Regions from separate parts of the Homo sapiens genome. Here region 2 is linked to region 1. Evidence: fine-mapped expression QTL. A gene starts in region 1. The other region holds a variant in brackets. All regions are shown on one strand. Distances are between the middles of the regions.

Region 1 (5,383 bases):
CCAGACATCATGGAGCAGAGATAAGCCATCTTTGCTATGCCTTGTCTGAATTCTGACTGAGAGGGTAATTTTATATTTTTCAAAGGGTGAAAGTATAATGTTTGATCCTCACAATGATAGTTTGGCAGGTTGGGCTAGCATTATTATAACCTTCATTTTATAGATTAAAAAACAAAACAACAAACAGGGATTTAAGCTTACCTGCTTTGAGATTGTATAGCTAAGGTGTGGAGTGCTGACGCTAAAATCCTGATCTTTGGACTCCAAAGCTTATGCTTTCTCTCGTTTCTCATCTGGATACTGTAGGACTTTAGAATGGCCTAAGGAAGTAAAACAGGATATATCCAGAATTTTAAGGCAAGGTCAGAAAATGTCAAATGAGTAGAACGCTAAGAAGAATCAATATTAAATGGATGAGACCAGTCATCCTGTGGAGAAATAATCATGGAAGATCTGAACTACAGACTGATACTGACAAATAAGGCTAGAATTCAAAATGGAACCAATGTGAGGATAAAAGCCTTTAAAACTTTTAATGTTATAAGGAAGTGTTATAATGATATAACATTTTTAGCAGCTAATTTTTTAAAAATGAAATAGGACAGTTAGAGAATTAACAAAAATCTTGCCAGTTGTGTTTCTGATGAAAGGGTGATGAAAGGGTGATGAAAGGGGAAAAGGTGCCATGACTGGCTAATGGTGCTATTTCAGTCTGCTTCTAAGTATGTCCTTATAGTAAAGGGTGCTTCAGATTAGTTTAGCTTGATGACATCATCCCTTGTGATCATTTACTCTACATTTGCCAAGCCACTTTTTGATTTAAATTTATTTCCTCATAGAAACTTTCCTACTTGGAGGAGAATGTACAATGAAGTTAACAAAGCATACCATGTTCATGTTTTTTTTTTTTTGGAGACAGAGTCTGGCTCTGTTGCCCAGGCTGGAGTTCAGTGGTGCAATCTCGGCTCACTGCAACCTCTGCCTCCCAGGTTCAAATGATTCTCCTGCCTCAGGCTCCTGAGTAGCTGGGATTACAAGTGTGCACCACCACACCAGGCTAATTTTTTGTACTTTTAATAGAGATGAGGTTTCACTACGTTGGCCAGGCTGGTCTCAAACTCCTGGCCTCAGGTGATCCATCCGCCTCAGACTCCCAAAGTGTTGGGATTACAGGCGTGAGCCACTGCGCCCGGCCTACAATGTTCATCTTATAGGTTATATTTTTTCAATGCAGAAGAATGTTAGTATTCTCATTCATCAAGCAGCCTCACACAGCATCCTTTACCTGAGAGTAAGCATCAGCTCCCAGGCTTACGGTGACCCTAATCAATATGAAGACACCCTGTTTCAGAAGTCAGTAGGACACCTTTCTATTTCTTGAATCATCCAAAATACAGTAAGGAGGTCGCTGGTGACTTCCCCCATGATGGGAAGTACTAAAAGGCAGAATCCACTTAGTTTTTCATGACTTCATGTTTAGGTTACTTTGGTGATTCACTCCAGGCCATTGGGAGCCCACAGTAATTGTTTCTCATTCCCGTTTCTCTCTTCCTTAAACTTTTCTTTTCCAATTATTTATTCTTTATTAGATCCATGTATTTTTAATAATGAATTGAATTTCATTCTGTAATTGGGCTTCTCAAAGATAATTGACCTCTTCTCTCCCAATTGTTTTCATGCGTATTTTGCAGAGAATGCTTGGAATATTCTGTTCATGAAAGGCACAAAGTACATAAAATATTTTGAGTGATTTTCTTCAAAATAAAAATGATTAGTTTTGATGCTTCAGATGTCTAGAATGCTATGTGCCTTGTACAGGCCCTACGGCATGGAAAGTGCTCAACTGATATTTGTTAAATGAATGAATCTGGAAAACGAAAAATACACGAAATATTTTATTCCTCAACAATGAAGAAAAAGCTTTCAGACTTCCATTTAGACTCGTTTTAACTGGCTGAATTCTTCAATGAAAAGAAAACACGCGTCGCACTGCTAATTTAGCTGTTCCTAAATATATTTCCATCAAATTCTGCTTGGCTGTTTCAACCTTGGGGTTGAAGTTCTTATTTTGATGACACAGAGACGTTCATTGCAGTGGAAATAGCAAGTAGTATTGGCTTCCCCGCCTTCCTCCCTCTAGGATTTCAACTTCTCCTCCTCGAACACCAGCCCTGCTCTTCTAGTAAATCCCACATTACAGAACAGGCTGAGGACGGAGGAGACAAGAGGAAAGTAGGAAACCGGAGCCATGGAAACGGCGGAGCGGAGGCAAAGTGTGAGAGCGCGGGTGGTTAGAAGGGAAAAAACCCTCCCCGGACGACGGCGCGAAGGCGCGCCTCAGATTACGTCACGCACCGGGGTGACGTCACGACCGTGACACGCGGGTGACGCCGTTGCCGCGGCGACTTCTCGTCGTCTCCGCCCCCTTCCCCCGCTCCCCCCCGCACCCCCGCCTAGCGTCCTTCCCCCAATCCCCTCAGGCTCGGCTGCGCCCGGGGCCGCGGGCCGGTACCTGAGGTGGCCCAGGCGCCCTCCGCCCGCGGCGCCGCCCGGGCCGCTCCTCCCCGCGCCCCCCGCGCCCCCCGCTCCTCCGCCTCCGCCTCCGCCTCCGCCTCCCCCAGCTCTCCGCCTCCCTTCCCCCTCCCCGCCCGACAGCGGCCGCTCGGGCCCCGGCTCTCGGTTATAAGATGGCGGCGCTGAGCGGTGGCGGTGGTGGCGGCGCGGAGCCGGGCCAGGCTCTGTTCAACGGGGACATGGAGCCCGAGGCCGGCGCCGGCGCCGGCGCCGCGGCCTCTTCGGCTGCGGACCCTGCCATTCCGGAGGAGGTGAGTGCTGGCGCCACCCTGCCGCCCTCCCGACTCCGGGCTCGGCGGCTGGCTGGTGTTTATTTTGGAAAGAGGCGGCGGTGGGGGCTTGATGCCCTCAGCCACCTTCTCGGGCCAGCTCCGCGGGCTGGGAGGTGGGCATCGCCCCCGTGTCCCTCTCCGTCATGCAGCGCCTTCCTACGTAAACACACACAATGGCCCGGGGGGTTTCCCTGGCCCCCACCCCAGATGTGGGGATTGGGGCAGCGGTGGTTGAGCGGGAGGCTATCAATAGGGGGCGAAACTCAGGGTTGGTCCGAGAAGGTCACGATTGGCTGAAGTATCCAGCTCTGCATCTCTGTGGGGTGGGGGCGGCGGCGGCCTCGACGTGGAGGATATAGGTTAGTTGCTGGGGCTGAGACAACAGCCCGAGTTACTGTCGCGTGTAATTCTTACATGGTCGTGGGGATGATGGGGCTCATCATTTCCTCTCTCCTCTCCCGGACTGCCCCCCTTCTCAGTCCGCTGCCCTTTTTCACTTTTCTATTTGGGGATTTCTCTTCACCTGTTTTACCCAGCAAATTATTTTGATTTAGTCTTTACTTTTTCAATCCTAAATCGCAGTTTCCGATGCCTTTTCTGGTCTCTGGTCCTCTGTTCCTAATGTTTGTCAGCGCTCTGTCGCTGATTGGTAACCCCCATTCTATTCCCATCTACCGCCCGCTCATTTTCCAGTTGTCGGACCTGCCTGCCTTCTAACCCCAGCTCCCACTTAAGAGCATTTTTGCACTTCTCTTACCCTGGTCCTCTTGAGGCTCTGTACTTGATCTCACCACTCCCTAACATTGTTGTCTGTTGTTATCTTCACAAATCCTCCTGGACACTTTGGAGCTACTTGTTTTCTGAGCCCAGAAGCTGTCAAGATTCCATCAGGTTTCACTTGGCTCTTTTCGCGCTTGCACTACTGGCACTTTTTGGCTAGTCGTCCATTGTGCATTCACACCTCTTTATTCCTACCCATTTTTATAGGTCTGATTGATTTCTTAGTGTTGTCCTCCTTTTTGTCCTATTTTTTTCCTTTTCCTTTTTCCTCTCCAGTCCTTGCTTCTCTCAGCCTGTTTTTGCATTAGTCAGCCTCTTAGCACTGTGTCAAATTATTTACGTTTTTTTATTACATAAAATTTATTACAAATATTTGGTATTTTATTACAGAAAATAATACTTTATTATGCTTTACAAATAAGATATGGTATAATAATTGTGGTTTACAGTTATTGATTAGGTAATGTGACTTACTCTGTTGACTTTGCTCGAAGTTCTCTTTGCTACTTACTATTAACATCTAATTTCTCAATTCTCATAACATCTCATTCTCTCTGCAATTTTTTTTTTGCATCATCATCTTTGGAAATTCATCCAATATGCTTGCTTTATTCAGCATCAGCTTGTTTATGATAATGTTTGTTTTCTACTCTTTATATCATCTTTGTTACATGCCCAAAATGTGTTCTGTACCATCATTTGATCTGTTCTAAAATTTCTCATTTTTAAGTTTCTTAAAATCATTCCACTTTTCAGTATGCATTTTTGCTTAGATCAGTTTCCTCTCATATCTGTTCCTTTCCCCCAGCTTCTTGATTTCTAAGGAGAAAGCTCTTCTCTACTTCAATTTCCTAGTTTATTCTGTTTCCCTTGTTTCCAGTTACCATTCATTTTGCCTTGTTTCCTGGCTTTTGGTACTTAACTTTCTGAAGCTTCCTCTTTTCTTCTCCACACCTCCACGTTCCTTCTTATTTATAAACATCTTTGTTTCCTTTGACATGGAAATTTATTTTTAGGATACATTGTTTTTAATGGATAAATACTAGGGGTCACATCTGCTGTCTGTTTTCTCCAGGAATCGGATATGCCTTTGTCTTAACCAGGCACAGGTGCCTCTGGATTTTATTTTACTCTGTAATAGATGTGTAGTTTTGTTGAATTGTATCTTGTTTGAAGACTACTACAGAGTGGAACAATGAGTGAAGTAATAAGTAGGGGTTATGAAATTGTAATTCTCTGATTATAAAATTGTTTATCTTGGGAACTTTGCTGCAGAGTTATTAGAACCGTTTGCAATTCTGTAAAGAAGGCTTTTGTGAAGTAAAATCTCTACCCTTCTATTTTATTTGAAAGGGCCAGATTGTTTGGAACTGTACCCCCTGAAGAGTCTGATTTAGTAAGTGAGAGCGAGGGCCATGGATTTCTGTATTTGGCACATGTCTTGAGCAGTTCCCATGTACCAATCCTTGAGAACCTCTAGGCTAGCTGAATTTAAGTATAAATTGCCAGTAATTGGAAAGCATATTCATATCTTCTGAAACTATAAGGATACTCTCATTTTACTTGGTTAAAAAACAAGTGTTTCCTACTGTCCTCTTTACCCAGGTTTTAATGTTTAGTGGTGAACAGTAGTTTTCCCTCTACATTTTTTTCTGAACTGATAATAAATGTATTTGGCTGGGAGGGTGACATTGATTAAAAAATGTATCTCTTGAATGTAAATATCAGTATTACAGATGATAAAATAAATTCCTCCA
Region 2 (5,383 bases), 100 kb before region 1:
TCTCAGCTCACTGCAACCTCTGCCTCCTGTGTTCAAGCAATTCTCCTGCCTCAGCCTCCAGAGTAGCTGGGATTACAGGCGTGAGCCACCATGCCTGGCAAATTTTTGTATTTTTAGAAGAGACAGGGTTTCACTATGTTGGCCAGGCTGGTCTCAAACTCCTGACTTCAGGTGATCCACCTGCCTCAGCCTCCTAAAGTGCTGGGATTGCAGGCATGACCCACCATGGCTGGCCCTTTTAATTTATTTAAAATAGATGAGACTATTAAAATAGACTGTTGAAAGCAAAAATTATCACATCCCCTGGTAAGAGTTCTAATATATGCAGATGTAATACTTAAGACAACACTAGCATATAAAGGGTGGAGGGTAAATGGAGTTCTATGGTTGTAAGTCTTGAAACAAGAAACTGAGGGAACATAGGAAATAAAGGACCTGGGGGGATGCAAAAACTCTTTGATAATATGTCTTTATATATCTATGCACTGTTAAATCCTTTCACAAAAAATTGACATTTTTAACTGTGCTGATGTAAGAGAAAATGTATTTAAATTCATTTGATAAGATAATTTTTCCTACATTGCTAAGTTTTATTTCTCTTTTACTAATCAACTTCTTTGTATAAAATAGTATGCAACAAATATATGAGAAGGGAGTAACAGAAACAAAAAGGAAGAAAAGGTTATTTGTAGTAGTATGTACCACCAGAAGAAAACTTTGCTTTCCTGTATCCATAACTTTGATTAAAACTACATAATGGTTGGGCATGGTGGCTCCCGTCTGTAATCCCAGCACTTTGGGAGGCTGAGGCAGGTGGACCACCTGAGGTCAGGAGTTCAAGTCCAGACTGGCCAACACAGTAAAACTGCGTCTCTACTAAAAATACAAAAGTTAACTGGGTGTGGTGGTGCGTGCCTGTAGTCCCAGCTACTTGGGAAGCTGAGGCAGGAGAATCACTTGAACCCAGGAGGCAGAGGTTGCAGTGAGCTGAGATCGTGCGGGCAGGTGGGGAGGAGCAAGTCCTGAGGGCCCTGCTTGCTTTCTCACTGGGGAGGCTAGTAGCCTGGAGCAAGATCTCAGCCCTGCTTGCCAGCTGTCTGGATATAAATTTAGTGCTGTTGGTGGGGCACAAAGGGAGTGAGAATAGCTTTGCTGGCTATGGGAGCTGGGTGAGGCCTGTCACTGCTGGCTTTCCCCACTTCCCTGGTGACCTGTAATGATGCAGCAGAGACAAATACAATCCCCCTGGGAACATAATTCTATTGGCCTGAGAAGCATCCCCCTATCCCCCACAGTGGCACAGCAAGTTCTGCCCAAGGAGAGTCTGAGCTCAGACACGCCTAACACTGCCCCCTCCTGATGGTTTTTCTCTACCCACCCTGGCAGCCAAAGACAAAAGACATAAACTCGTGGGAGCTCTATGGCCCCACCCATGACCTGAGAAAGCCGATTACTTATCTGGCAAATGTAGGGCAAGCTTATATCCCCCTTCTACTACTGCAGGTGGGGCTCTCTTGAAAGCACCACCTCCTGGCTGGAGGCCAACCAACTCAAGCCATTACAGCAACTCATAAGAGAACAATCCTGCTCCAAAGAAGGAGAAAACAATAGCTAATTCCACCACCTGCAACATCCTGGCCAACCAGAGGTCCCGAGTCTATCTGTGTGACAACTTCACTGCTAGCATAACCAGCATTCGAGAAAACCAGCACACTAAACAAAACTACAACCAAGGACTTTAACTGAGTCTAAGTCTACTTCACTCCCCTGCCACCTCCACCAGAGCAGGTGCTGGTATCCACAGCTGGGAGACTTGAAGATGGATCATATCACAGGACTCTTTGCAGACATTGCCTAGCACCAGCCCAGGGCTCAGAAGGGCAATAACAATCACTGCAGTCTAGCTCTCAGGAAGCCCCATTCCTAGGGGAAGGGGGAGAGCACCACATCAAGGAATTACCCTGTGGGACAAAAGAACCTGAACAGCAGCCCTTGAGTTCCAGATCTTTCCACTGAAACAGTCTGCCCAAATGAAAAAGAAACAGAAAAGTAAGTCTGGTAATATTACAAAACAAGGTTCTATCACACACTCAAAAGATCACACTAGCTCTCCAGCAATGGATCCAAACCAAGAAGAATCTCTAAATTGCCAGATAAAGAATGCAGACAGTTGATTATCCAGCTACTCAAGGAGGTAACAGAGAAAGGTAAAAACCAATTTGAAGAAATTTTTTTTAAAAAAAACAGGCCGGGGGAGGCATGGTGGCTCATGCCTGTAATCCCAGCACTTTGGGAGGCCAAGGTGGGAAGATTATCTGAAGTCAGGAGTTCGAGACCAGCCTGGCCAACATGGTGAAACCCTGCTCTACTAAAACTACAAAAATTAGCCAGGTGTGGTCATGGGCAACTGTAATCCCAGCTACTCAGGAGGCTGAGGCAGGAGAATCGCTTGAGCCCAGGACGCAGAGGGTGCAGTGAGCCGAGATCATGCCACTGTACTTCAGCCTGGGTGACAGAGCAAGACTTTGTCTTAAAAAATAAAAAAAGCCAGGCCTGGTGGCTCACGCCTGTAATCCCAGTACTTTGGGAAGCCAAGGTGGGTGGATCACGAAGTCAGGAGATCGAGACCATCCTGACTAACATGGTGAAACCCAGTCTCTACTAAAAAACACAAAAAACTAGCCAGGCAAGGTGGCAGGTGCCTGTAGTCCCAGCTACTCAGGAGGCTGAGGCAGGAGAATGGCGTGAACCTGGGAGGCGGAGCTTACAGCGAGCCGAGATCGCGCCACTGCACTCCAGCCTGGGCGACAGAGTGAGACTCCATCTCAAAAAAAAAAAAAAAAAAA[C/AC]AGGTCAGGCAGTGACTCACACCTTCACACCTGTAATCCCAGCACTTTGGGAGGCCGAGGTGGGTGGATCACCTGAGGTCAGGAGTTCAAAACTAGCCTGGCCAATGTGGGGAAACTCTGTCTTTACTAAAAATACAAAAACTATCCAGGCATAGTGGCATGTGTCTGTAATCCCAGCTACTCGGGAAGCTAAGGCAGGAGAATTGCTTGAACCTGGGAGGCAGAGGTTGCAGTGAGCCAAGATCATGACACTGCACTCCAGCCTGGGTGACAAAGCGAGACTCCTTCAAACACACACACACACACACACACACACACACACACACACACACACACACACATACACTACAGGATATGGATGAAAAACTCTCCTGAGAAACAGACATCATAAAGAAAAGGCAATCACAACATCTGGAAATGAAAGACACACTTAGAGAAATGCAAAATACACTGGAAAATTTCAACAATACAATCGAACAAGTAGAAGTAAGAACTTCAGAGCTCAGAGACAAGGCTTTCTAACTGACCCAATTCAACAAAGACAAAGAAAAAAGAATTTTAAAAAATGAACAAAGCCTCCAGAAATTTGGGATTATGTTAAGCAACCAAACATAAGAATAATTGGCCCTCCTGAGGAAGAAGAGAAATCCAAAAGTTTGCAAAACATATTTGAAGGAATAATCAAGGAAAATGTCCTTGGTCTTGTTAGAGATCTAGACATCTAAATACAAGAAACTCAAAGAACACCTGGGAAATTCATTGCAAAAAGATCATAACACAGGCACACAGTCATCATGTTATCTAACGTCAAGATGAGGGAAAGAATCTTAAGAGCTGTGAGGCTAAAGCATCAGGTAACATATAAAGGAAAACCTATAAGATTAACAGCAGACATCTCAGCAGAAACCCTGCAAGCCAGAAGGAATTGGGATGCTATCTTTATCCTCCTTTAACAAAACAATTATCAGCCAAGAATTTTGTAGCTGGCAAAACTAAGTTTCATAAATGAAGAAGAGATAAAGTTTTTTTCAGACAACAAATGCTGAGAGTATTCACCACTACCAAGCCAGCACTACAAGAAATGCTAAAAGGAGTTGTAAATATTGAAACAAAACCTTGAAGTACACCAAAATAGAACCCCTTTAAAGCATAAATCTCACAGGGCCTATAAAACAATAACTCAATGAAAAAAATGGTAGTCAAGCAACAACTAGCATGATGAAGAGAACAGTACCTTACACCTCAATACTAATGTTGAATATAAATGGCCTAAATGCTCCACTTAAAAGATACAGAATGGCAGAATGGATAAAAATCCACCAACCAAATATCTGCTGTCTTCAAGAGACTCACCCAACACATAAGGACTCACATAAACTTAAGGTTAAAGCATAGAAAAAAATACTCCTTGCAAATGGAAACCAAAAGGGAGCAGGATTAGCTTTTCTTATATCAGACAAAACAGATTATAAAGCAACAACTGTTTAAAAAGACAAAGAGGGATTATTATATAAAAATAAAAGGATTAGTCCAACAGGAAAATATCACAATCCTTAATATATATGCACCTAAAACTGGAGCTTCTAAATTTATAAAACAATCACTACTAGACCTAAGAAATGAGATAGCTGGCAATACAATAGCAGTGGAAGACTTCAGTACTCCACTGGCAGCACTAAACAAGTCAAGACAGAAAGTTAACAAAGAAACAATGGACTTAAACTATACCCTAGAACAAATGCACTTAACAGATATTTACAGAACATTCTACCCAACTGCAGAATATACATTACTTTCATCAGCACAAGGAACAATCTCCAAGATAGACCATAAGATAGGCCACAAAACAAGTCTCAATAATTTAAGAAAACTGAAATCATATCAAGTACTCTCTCAGATCACAGTGCAATAAAATTGGAAATTAACTCTAAAAGGAACCCTCAAAACAAAACAAATACATGGAAATTAAATAATCTGCTTTTGAATGATCTTTGGGTCAACAATGAAATCAAGATGGAAATTAAAAAATTCTTTGAACTGAATGATAATAGTGATACAACCTATCAAAATGTCTGGGATACAGCAAAACGGTGCTAAGAGGAAAGTTCAGAGTATTAAATGCCTACATCAAAAAGTCTGAAAGAGCACAAACTGACAATCTAAGCTCACATCTCAAAGAATTAGAGAAACAAGAACAAACCAAGCCCAAACCCAGTAGAAGAAAATGAATAACAAAGATCAGAGCAGAACTAAATGAAACTGAAACAAAAAAACACACATACACAAAAGATAAAAGAAACAAAAAGCTGGTTCTTTGAAAAGACAAAATCAATACAACCTTTGTAGATTAAATCAGGAAGAAATAGAAACTCTAAACAGACCAAAACCAAGTAATGAGGTTGAAACAGTAATTTTAAAATTGCCAACAAAAAAAGGGTCCAGGACCAGATGGGTTCATAACTAAATTCTATCAGACATTCAAAGAAAAATTGGTACCAATCCTACTGAAACCATTCCAAAAGATAGAGAAAGAGAGG

Alleles and levels. Positions count from the first base shown, and alleles are read on the strand shown. Sizes are in standard deviations (SD) of each study's normalised expression.
As copies of C replace AC in region 2, the expression in subcutaneous fat of the gene that starts at base 2,462 in region 1 goes down (moderate effect, 0.65 SD a copy in FUSION).

The links. PIP is the estimated chance that this variant, and not a neighbour inherited with it, causes the effect.
Region 2: its variant is the best candidate, but not a certain one, in a credible set for the expression of BRAF in subcutaneous fat (FUSION, PIP 0.57).

The regions. Positions count from the first base shown.
Region 1 is chr7:140,922,008-140,927,390 of GRCh38, reverse strand. It overlaps BRAF (B-Raf proto-oncogene, serine/threonine kinase), which reads left to right and starts at 2,462. Exons shown (of 18, transcript NM_004333.6): 1 at 2,462-2,825. The coding sequence starts at 2,688. It overlaps LOC105375536 (a long non-coding RNA gene), which reads right to left and starts at 2,299. Exons shown (of 5, transcript XR_002956518.2): 1 at 889-2,299; 2 at 202-320. RefSeq lists a silencer at 2,570-2,639.
Region 2 is chr7:141,023,204-141,028,586 of GRCh38, reverse strand. No RefSeq gene overlaps it. Among named protein-coding and RNA genes, the nearest start is that of MRPS33, 11 kb to the right of the region's middle. RefSeq lists a silencer at 3,532-3,732. The variant C/AC (reference allele first, on the strand shown) is at 2,847.